3 linked regions of the Homo sapiens genome follow. The protein of the gene in region 3 purifies or fractionates together with the protein of the main gene of each other region. This does not show direct contact. Each region holds a gene or a part of one and is shown on either strand. Other genes may lie near its edges.

Region 1 (3,753 bases), on a different chromosome or scaffold from region 3:
GGTACAACAAGTGATATCTGTAATTTTTGGCTGCTCATTATCTACCTGCTCTTCAATACATTTACCACTTATTCCTTACATTTAATCCATTACAACCCTATGAACTGGTCAGCCTAATTATCTAGATGAGGAAAAAAGGTATCAAGAGGTTAGTAGTACAGAGTCAGTCAGCATATGACGGGGTGGGATTCCATCACAGGTCTGTCTATCTCCAATGCCATTATGTAATACACAGATCAAGTAAATGTTATGTAAACTTATCAATCCAAAAGTTGTTTCTAACCCCTAAAGTGTTCTTTTACTTACATCTGAAATACTTAGGACCTGATTCAGACTCAGTACTCCTGAGCAAAAGGAATTAGCCTTTATTGATGTAGAATTTCTATATAATAAAATGCACAGATCTTGAAGTGTTCACATCAATGAGTTTTGACAACTGTATATACATCCATATAATCACTAACCCAAGCAAAATATATTTACATCACTCAGAAAGTTGTGCCAAAGATGACCAACTCATCCTGGATGGCTGGGGATTTCCCAATTTGTGGCACTGAGGGTCCTGTATCCCTTGCTCCCGGGCAAACCAAGATGGTTGGTCACCCTATTTTGTCTTTTTGGCCTTACTTTTAAATGAATGACAAAAGGCAAGCAGGTGAGAAAAGCTGTCCTAGATACTTGGAGGGCAGAACTGCAAAGTGTGATGCTTGCTCTGCTCCGATGGCGGGGAGAGGTTACCATCAAATGAACAGCAACGGCATCGCCTGTACTGATTTTAGATGCCACACAGATGTCTTGAGTGATATGACATGGCCAGACTGTCCATCTGTAGACTATCGGCTGCAACTTCTCCCTATGACCTTTAGCCTGCCATCATTGAGCCTGCCTCTGTCAGGTCCCCGCATCACTTCTAATCTGCTGTGTGCTAGGAAACTAGATTACCTTGCATTAGCAAGCTAGAAGAGTAGGAATAAATAGGCTTTTGTGTTTTCAGTACATAGAATTTGTATTAACACTTTCAGCTGCTTAAAGTTCTTTTATAATTCCTGCCTACCTTCGGCTGGTTCTGGTTAGCAGAGGCTAACTGGTATCCTCCAGAGAAGTGAGTTGTTTTACTTCTCTTTGAATGATTTCACTTCCCCTTAATTACTCTGGTTGAGAGCAAAAATAAATTTCTGGGCATCATTCCAAATACTCACAGAAAGTGCTTCTATACCCAGCCCTTTCATGTCCCGGGGTAGAAGGTGTAAGCAAACCCACGGGCAGACACATCCCACCATTCCTGCCATTCCCTGATCTGGAGGTGGAACCAAACCTGTTCTAAACAGTCACTGACTCTGCTCTGTAGCCAAACTGGTATTTTGGAGCATCCTTTCTTAAGGCCTATCCTTCAATGCCTAATTCTAGGATACAGGTGGGCTTTATATCCTGAACCTGAAAAATAATGCCCATTTGGGATCCTTGAAAAGGATATTTTTTGTTGTACTTAACTTACTCCTGCATCTCACACTAGTCATGGTATTAGCATTTATTGTGTCCAGTGTTTAGGAACCACCCGCATCCACTCCGTAATCCACTGTCTCTTCTGTACTCAAGCTGTAAGCCTTTATCAGTGAATCTGAAGCAATAAAACATCTCAGGGTTTTTCTCTGTTCCGAGTTTACCTTCTCAGGTCTTTTGCTGACAGCAGCGATTTCACTGATTGGGAGAGCAGATGTGTTACTGGCAAAGATACAGTGATCTGGAATCACCTGCAGGGGAAAAGCATTTAACAATGTGTCAGGTAGGCCTGGGAGATGATTAGAGGCCACATCAAAGCTAATGAGTGACACCTGGGCCCAGCCCACTCTGTCCCCCACAACTGCTCAGACAGTAGATGTCACTCACCCAGACATTGACGGATCACCTAGGGGGTTTTGTGTCGGGGAATATGTTGACCTTGTTCCTTTTCCCATTCTGCCTTCCTCTAGTTATGGCCCATCATAAGGTCACCTTATCCTGACCTGGAGACTACATCTCAGCAGTTGGGTCAATAAAACAGCTTAGAACAACACTGAAAAGACGGCCTTGAATTGCAATTCATTGATTTCAACACCCAGCATGGGTGTCACCTCCTCTTTTGTTTGGATCTGCCCTGAATCACTCCCCGCTTCACCTTTATAAGAACAAGCCAAAATGTGCATGCTTGTCTCATTTTATACAGTGTGTTACTAAAAAACGGCATACCACTATAGTTGCAGCTACAGTACACAAATACTATTAACTATTAGCTTTATCCACCTGGAGAATAGTCTCTAATGCAGATTGTCTCCGCATTCTGGCCACGATCCCAACTTATTCATGTTTTTTTTTTGTTTTTTTTTTTTAAAGACAGAGTCTCGCTCTGTTGCCCAGGCTGGAGTGTAGTGGTGCAATCTAGGCTCGCTGCAACCTCCGCCTCCCAGTTATTCATGTTTTTATTCAGATGGTTGGATGAGAAACGTGGAAGGGACACCTGTCAAATGTGTGCAAATCTGGAACAGGCAGAATCCTAACAGAGATGAGAATCAAGGAGGAAGACACATTCAACACACTGAAAAGCTGAGTACAAAATAAGATTATAATGCAATAAAAGTAAAGTACTGCCTTAAGATTTAAAAAAAAAAGGAAAGAAAAGAACTGTATAGGTACTTGAAGGACAAGACCTGGCTTGGCAGTATTTGTGATAAAGATCCCATGATTTTAGTTAATCAAGAGTGGAGGGTGGGCATGGTGGCTAAACAACTATAATCCCAACACTTCAGGAGGCCAAGGATGGAGGATTACTTGAGGCCAGGAGTTCAAGACCAACCTCGGCATCATAGTGAGACCCTATATCTACAAAACATAACTTTTTTTTTTTTTTTGGAGACAAAGTCTTGCTTTTTCGCCCAGGCTAGAGTGCAGTGGTGCAATCTCAGCTCACCGCAAGCTTTGCCGCCTGGGTTCAAGCAATTCTCCTGCCTCAGCCTCCCGAGTAGCTGGGATTACAGGCACCTGCCACCATGCCTGGCTAATTTTTTTGTAGTTTTTAGTAAAGACAGGGTTTCATCATCTTGGCCAGGCTGGTCTTGAACTCCTGACCTCGTGATCCACCCGCCTCAGCATCCCAAAGTGCTGGGATTACAGGTGTGAGCCACAGTGCCCGGCCCTACAAAAAATAACTTTAAAAAACTAGCCAGGCATGGTGGTACATACCCATAGTCCTAGTTACTCAGGAGGCTGAAGTGAGAGGCTCGCTTGAGCCCAGGAGTTCAAGGTTACAGTGAGCTGTGATCATGCCACTGCACTCCAGCCTGGGTGACAGAGTGAGACCCTGTCTCTAACAACAAAAAAACAAAACAAAAGTGGAATGAATTGACAGTACAGCATGACTGTCAGAAAGCTTACGTAGTGTCAGGTTACTTTCTTAGTAATATAGTGTCTAATGCTGGTGGTGAAATCCTTTCTGAAGAGCAAACTAATGTCTCCAAAGCTGGCTGGCAAACATTCTTCCCTTCCTTGGACATGTATGTCTTTTCTCCCAGCTAGAAGTAGAGTCTGTTTCCCTTCTCCTTGAATCTGGGCTGGTCTTGTGACTTGTTTTTATCAACACAATGCAGCAGAAGTTACCCTGCCAGTTCCAGGCCTACCTAGACCTGTGGGGCCCGGTAGCCTCTTTTTTTATTTTTTAAATTATTTATCTTTTTTTCTTCCTGACAATAAACTTAGGAAGCTCAGTAGCTTCTGCTTTTG
Region 2 (3,753 bases), on a different chromosome or scaffold from region 3:
CTCTCTGTCATAGGTGAATAAAGAAAAACTGGAAAAAATGTGCACATGAAGTCTAAAACATGAGATTTCCCTCAACTTTTTACTTAAGAATCTAAGCCAAAGTTAACCATGCCTTCTAATTGTAACCTAAGAGCAGGACAGGTGTTTTCAAAAGTCGTTATTTTACTTGGGCCTGAATTTTTTTTTCATTTCTCCTTTTCACTTATCTATATGATCATGCACTATAGCTGCCTGGAAAATGGTTGAGGCCAAAAAACATAATCAAACACCCCTACAAGCAAGCACATAAGTTTTCTGAAAATAAGTTCCTGGGTGTTTCTCTGTGACAGTAGTACAAATTGGGAGTATCCAGCTTGATCCTGGGTTTCTAAAGGATTTATACAATAACATCATGAGACTCTTTTCAATGTTCCTTCTGATAGTGTGTGTGTGAGTGTGTGTGTGTGAGAGAGAGAGACAGAGAGAGAGAGAGCACATGCATAATGGACTTAATAATAAATATAGCATATTTATGAGACAACATGAAAAAAACTGAAAAATGTAAATGAGAATACCTGGTTATTTCAGATTTACTTTTTGGCCACCATACAGCCACAGCCTAAGGTTAGAGATTTTAATCTCTTAACTACAAATGGCAAACTAGTTTTCTTCTGAAGCTTTCCTCAGGAACTTCAATGAAAAAACAAGCCAAAAGTGTATTTGTAACATTAATCATTCTTAAAGAATCTCTTGCCTGGTATAAAAATAAACACCTCATGATATCAAGTTTATAAGCAGGAAATATAACAAATACCAAAGCAAAATATAAGGACCACATCAAATAAGAAACTGCCTCTGAGTAAATATGGAACAGAAAAGAAAATATGACACCTACTTCAAAGCCAGAACATTGGTGAGCTTATCAAAATGCAATAGTTCTACAAAACCATTCTCTTCTCACATTGGGTGGGCAACTCAGAGACTGGCCACTAATACCAAATAGCTTTTCAAAACCTGGACTGAGGAAACTGAATACTTTTGCAGGGAGATGTATGTGTGTGACTCTCCTGACATGCCAAGAGATTCTATACCTATGTCTCTCAGCCCCTAACTCATCACTTAGTTATTCCTTGAGGCCTGAGGATGAAGTCCACAGTCCTCCCTGGTTCCAGCTTTTCAAACATTGTAGGTATGGCTTGTGTTTTTTTTTTTTCTTTGCTTCTCTCCTTTTCCTTTTATCTAGTTCTTTTCCCTTCTATTGCTTGCCTTTTATTTACTGGGCTTTCTTCAGAGAAAGAAAGGGAAATGGACTTCCTCTGCATAGTAAACAAATAGGCAGGTCAACTCATCCCCATTACAAGTGTGCAGCCTGACATTTTTACCAAAGCTCTCTCCCTGAAAGTGAGAGGGCAGAAACTGCACAAAGAGTTAGGTGAACAATATAAGAAGCATACCAATCAGCTACCTGGGATGGCCTTTTATTTTCTCCAAAATCCCCTGAGTGGTTCTCAAAGTGTGGGCCTGGGACCAGCAGGATCAGCATCACTTGGACACTTGCTATAAATGCAAATTCTTGGCCCCACCCCAGAGTTACTGAATCAGAAACCCTGGAGGGTCCCTTTTGCTGGGCATCATTCCATTTTTACTATGGGCACTCTCAGCACCAGCTAGCCAACTGACTTGTCCACAGGCCAAATGGCTTGGTGGACAGGCCAAAATTTTCAGCTATCTGTGATTCTGATATACCCTAAAGTTGGAAAACAACTGCTCTAGCTGCTGAAACTTCTCCCATTTCACCTATCAGTTGCAATCACCAACAACTCAGGGGCTGTGTTGAGTATGAAGCAGTCAGGACAAGCATTAATGTTTTAATTAAGAGAAAATGTCTTTCCAATGAATTGTGTTTTTAAATAAATTTATTGCATTCCTAGGAATGACTTTTTTATTGTCTTGGGGACAAATTTTCTTGTGTGGAACTCTCTCAACTAAGTGTTAACATAGATGATTAAATGTATGCAGTACTTTTCTAGAGTTCAAAGTTGAGAAGGGACCTTAAATGTCATCTGGTCCATGTCCCACACCATGCTTGAATTTTGCTAGCATCCTTGCCAAGTGGTGATTGCTCATGGAGGGCATAAAAGGCACACGTGGATTGCGTTATTATATGACCAGTGTGTTGCACACATAGCTATCACATATTGGAAAAACAAAGCTTTGCCATCATTGAGAACAATATGCAAGCCTTGTGTGTCAATCCAGTGCTATTAATATTTCATGACCAAAAAGAGTGGATTCCAACAGCTACCACATGTCCTTCCTTATATTGAATTTTTATTATATTGCTCATAAAATTGGCACATATCAGCAGAAATTGGACATTCAGAATTATTTGAGTTGTGCTTTCAGACTCATTTAGTAAGTAATTCTCAAAACTCACTTGCATTTTTAAGGAACGTCACCTAGAGTCATGTTGGTTTTTAGGGGTGGGGCGAGGTGCGGTGTGACATTTCAAGCTTAGTTTTAATTTAAAACTTCTAATAAATGTCAAAGTTTAGCCTTTTGACAAAGTGCTGCAAGTCAAACAAACACTAAATCACTGAACACTTTACAGAAAAAGTAAAATATTATCAATCTTGGAGTTCCTCATTCAGGTCAAGAGCTTATGGGTGGATGCAGCCATATATAACATAGCTACTTTGGAGTACAAGAGAAATGGCCTAATGAAGAGGAGAATGATTTGAAACTGACATGCCCCTGTCCGACACCCACCATGGACCATACTTTGGTTTCCATGACTCACATTCTGTCCAGGAAAGTGTGTGTGTGTGTGTGTGTGTGTGTGTGTGTGTGTGTGTGTGTGTGTGTTTATGCTAGCGTGTACTTTAAGAGCCTAGGTTGGTGCTATATACATACTAAATCCTAATTCATTTCATCATTCAGAAAATTTATTTTCTTTCCTTCACATTTTAAAAGACTCTTTAATGTGGCTATATAAGTTGCAAATATGAAGACCATTTGGGTGAGCATATGGTTAATAAATGCTTGAGAAATTCTATAAAACTGATAATAATGAGTTAAAACGTCATAATTTCTCCAAATGGGTATGCAATTTGACAAGTATGTACTGAGTGGCTCTTATGGGCTCAAATCAAAGCACATGGTGTTTTGCCATGCATCTTAACCTTCTTCTTGCACAATCAGACCATAATGAAAATTTCTGGTAAGACAAATTTCCCCCATCCAATTCACCTTTACCATACACTGCCACTCTCCACATACGGTTTTATGAGAATACCAGAGATTTTTTTAAACATCTATAAAATTGTTAATCCCTCACTACATACAAAAAGTTCCTAAATATTCATATATTTAATCTATGAGAGTCAACCAGACAAAAATCAGGGGATCCAGAAGACCCAGACTCATTTCTTTTTAGATGGATTCTTACTAGCCCTGTTGCTTGGGACTATTCTACCTATGCCTTTTGCCTCAAAGGGACCTCATAAGGATGGCAGACATCATTTAAATTCTAAAATCCATAGCAATTGGGTACAATATCAACCAAAGCATAATAATTTGCTATTAGAAAGAAGGAGAAAAAATCCTTTTGCATCTGTTCCTCCTATTAAACTAGCAGCTCGCATGTTCTTGCATAATTCTTTCACATCCCCAATCCTCCTTTCTATTCCCATGACATTTACTTCTACAATGAGGAATGAAGCATAAATTAGCCATTCAGATCCTGGTCCACAGCCATCAATAGCAACTTCAGTA
Region 3 (3,753 bases):
CACACACACACACACACACACACACACACACACACACACACATTAATAAATAATTACTTGATTAATGTCTCTCCCTACTACTAGACTGTATCACCACTGTGTCCTCTGTGCCTAGTTCTAGATCTTTCCTCAAACAGAACACAAAATCCTACCCACACGTAGCACGTACAACCTCAGGCTGTCTAGCCACTGGACAAAATCTCCAGGGGCTCTCTTGGGTCACTACAATTCCATCCCTCTTTTCTCTCCTCCCTTTACTATTCCCGCCCTTAGTAAGAACAAAGAGCCTCAAAACCCTTTTTCCATTACCCCCTAGAAGAGCTTCCTATAGATAAGAGAAGCCCAGTCTCAAGTCAAGGACTGGTTGGTTCGGAGGAGAATGGCAAAAGAACTGGAGAGAGCAAATGGCCGTGAGCTGTGGACAGGATCCAAGTCTTCTACCAAGTCACGTTTTTGTATCTTACTATACTCTGTGTGAATTCAAGAAATGCTTTGAGAGTTGACTTATTAACCTGATCACTTTTGTTCTGTCTTCAATCCAGGAAAGAGAAGACTGAGACAGATAGTAGTAAAAAGTAGGTGTCGAAGGGAGTGGGGCTGAAGACCAGGTTTCAAGATGACTGCCCACTGACCACAGAAAATGAGTGTAATTCATGGAAATCAGGTTTAACAAAAATGTCCCAACCTTGAAGGTTGCAGGATATTGAGGAAAACAGTAACAGTTAAGAAAAAGAGTCTAGGCCGGGCACGGTGGCTCGCGCCTGTAATCCCAGCACTTTGGGAGGCTGAGGCGGGCAGATTACAAGGTCAGGAGATCAAGACCATCCTGGCTAACACGGTGAAACCCCGTCTCTACTAAAAATACAAAAAATTAGCCAGGCATTGTGGCGGGCGCCTATAGTCCCAGCTACTCGGGAGGCTGAAGCAGGAGAATGGCGTGAACCTGGGAGGTGGAGCTTGCAGTGAGCCAAGATCGCGCCACTGCACTCCAGCCTGGGCGACAGTGCGAGACTGCGTCTCAAAAAAAAAAAAAAGAGTCTAGGCTTGGAAAGGCATTGCTTTGCTTGGGTGGATGTCCCCAGAGATCTGGTTAAATAGCTTAGTAGAGGACTGAGTACTATATTACATCCTTTCCATAGAATCTGGAACCTGATTCTCAATACATAGACTGCCAATGCTTGGCGACTGACTGGTGGAGGACAGGGGATTATTGATAACTTTCTCTGATTCAACTTTGTCTGGAGACAGAAATATTAGACAGGCAGACTCTCACCGGCTTCTGGAGATGTTCTCCAGTCCAGAATTGCTTTATGTTTCTGGGTTGAGAGGTTACTGCATGCCTTATCTACAGACCTACACCAGAATACAAGCTTATCAAGAGCGGCTGCACACTTCCTGCCATCATGTCCCCTAAATGACAAACAAAGATGGTTTACATGTGCAAGTTGTGTGTGCTACCCTGTCTTAGGCACACAGTTCAATGCGGAAAGGAATGGAGGCCAGATGTGAAGTCAGGATTCTACCCAGCAGAGTTTTAATTGAGCTCCTGGGGCAAGAGTGAGGGGGTGGGCCAGCTGGCTCTCTTGCTGACCTTACTGTTATCTTAACTGTCAAAACCTCCCTGCTGTGTATATCCCTAAGGACTATGGCAAACTGTCCTATCCCATAGCATAAAGGGTGGGGATGTCTCTCCCTCTGTTTGGGGAATGACTGATCACCTAGTTTCAGCCAAGTTCTCAGTAATCTTCCTTCCGTCATTTTGCCAAGGCAGCATTTCACTTCATCTAAATGCCTCGAGCTCTCCAAACAGCCCCATTCCCCTTTTGCAATTTTCCAGGGGAAAAAAGTCACTATTGAATGTCCTTACTTCTGCAGCAGGAGGTCACTCTTCCCATTCTCCTGCCTAAGGCATCTGTCATCAACATTTGGACAGCTAGCACATCAGAACACAGAGGCAGTCCCACGTTGCTCAGCAGCCTAGAAATACATGCCCAGAACTGCCAGCTTTCCGAGTGGTGCTGGCTCCACAGCCGCATGAAGAGAGGAGGAAGGCGAAGACACTTATCCAAAGAACAGACACAACAACACAAAATCATTTGAAAAAGAACATCTCTGTCAGCAGCTACCACCGAGCAACAAGTCCTCCTTGAATGTGCTCCATGCTATGATTTCAATCCAGCGACGCTAAGCATAGCTCCACAGTTTCAAGGACACTGCAGTCAAACTTCGAGCTGGATGGTAAAAAGAAGCTGTTTGATTTACGAAGTGGGTCAACCAAAAGGAGCAATGCAAAAGGAAAGAGGTCAGGCCGGGGCCTGCCCCCTCCTTGTCCCATCCACTTCCACTGATATTTATCCTTTGTGAGAAGCCAAGAGTTCCAAGTCAGAAGGTTCTCCTGGAATATAACCAAGCTTAGACACAGAGGCCCACATTTTCTCTTGGATGATCCTAACTTTACTTCAAGGGCATCGCTCAGCTGGAGGCTTCCAGAACTGTTTACCCCAGACAAGGTCTGATTCTAAAAACATCCCAGAAAAAATATATTCTTAATTGTGCATAAATAAAAGAGGGGCAAAATGAAGCCTAAGAAGCCTGGGGTTTATTGAATACTTTCTCTAAGCAAGCACTGCACTGTGTTGTAAGTGGCACGTGTTGTAAGAGGCACTTCTGCAACAAACGTTTGAGCCCCCATTATGTGCAAAACATGCTTACAGGCACTGGGGATACAAAAATGAACAAAACAGCCAAAATCTTAGCTTTCACCGAACTGTTTGTTGTAGTTGTTGTTGTTGTTTGAAACAGAGTCTGGCTTTGTCGCCCAAGCTGGAGTGCAGTGGTGCAATCTTGGCTCACTGCAGCCTCCACCTCCAAGGTTCAAGTGATTCTCCTGCCTCAGCCTCCCGAGTAACTGGGATTACAGGTGTGCGCCACCATGCCTGGCTAATTTTTTTGTATTTTTTTTTTAGTAGAGATGGGGTTTTACCATGTTGGCCAGGCTGGTCTCGAACTTCTGACCTCTCAGGTGATCCATCTGCCTCGGCCTCCCAAAGTGCTGGGATTACGGTCGTGAGCTACCACACCCGGCCACTGAACTGACATTTTAGTGGGGCTGACAGGAATATATATGTCAGCTGGTGATAAATACTATGAGGAAGGATAAAGCAGACTAAGGGAATGCTATATAAAATTTTGTATAAAAATAAAGCAGAGGAGGGAGTGCTATTTTAGATAAAGTTGTCCTGGAAGGCTTCTCTGATTGCCATTTGATAAAAATAACTGCAAAAAGGGCTATCACATATATGATCACTGTGTGCTGGGAACTGTACTATGTACTTAACGTGCATTTAATCCTCAGCAACTCTGCATTCAGTACTATTACCATGCCCACGATACAGGACTGAATGAAGCTTAGAGAGGGTAAGGCTCTTGGCAGAATCTGCAGTAAGGGGAGCAGGGCCAGGGTTACATTGTAAGGGAAGAAACTAGGACTTGAACTCAGGGCTGCAACTTCAAACCACATGCTTTTCCTCACCACGCTGCAGCCAGGCTGGTGGAGAAAAGGAACCTCAAAGAGGTCAAGTGTGGCTGTGGCTACAAAGTAGCAGGTCCATCTGGCCTCCCCACACATGGCTAAGAGATTAACGCAATTCAATCTTCCCTAATATCAGACGATTACCCTCATCACCAGCTGAAAACCAAGCCTTATCTTGAAACAAGAGGAGAAATACACCTTGGGCTCCTTAAGGCCAGCAA

What was found.
Region 1: the proteins of MINK1 (region 3) and HADHA purify together in Homo sapiens (affinity purification with mass spectrometry; 2 studies listed by BioGRID and IntAct, with this or other methods). This does not show direct contact.
Region 2: the proteins of MINK1 (region 3) and GPC4 purify together in Homo sapiens (affinity purification with mass spectrometry; 2 studies listed by BioGRID and IntAct, with this or other methods). This does not show direct contact.

The regions. Positions count from the first base shown.
Region 1 is NC_000002.12:26,196,027-26,199,779, forward strand, and holds part of HADHA (trifunctional enzyme subunit alpha, mitochondrial precursor), read right to left. Parts: intron 1,752-3,753; coding exon 1,665-1,751; intron 1-1,664. UniProt on the Homo sapiens protein: Mitochondrial trifunctional enzyme catalyzes the last three of the four reactions of the mitochondrial beta-oxidation pathway.
Region 2 is NC_000023.11:133,324,843-133,328,595, forward strand, and holds part of GPC4 (glypican-4 precursor), read right to left. Parts: intron 1-3,753. UniProt on the Homo sapiens protein: Cell surface proteoglycan that bears heparan sulfate. May be involved in the development of kidney tubules and of the central nervous system.
Region 3 is NC_000017.11:4,836,229-4,839,981, reverse strand, and holds part of MINK1 (misshapen-like kinase 1), read right to left. Parts: intron 1-3,753. UniProt on the Homo sapiens protein: Serine/threonine kinase which acts as a negative regulator of Ras-related Rap2-mediated signal transduction to control neuronal structure and AMPA receptor trafficking.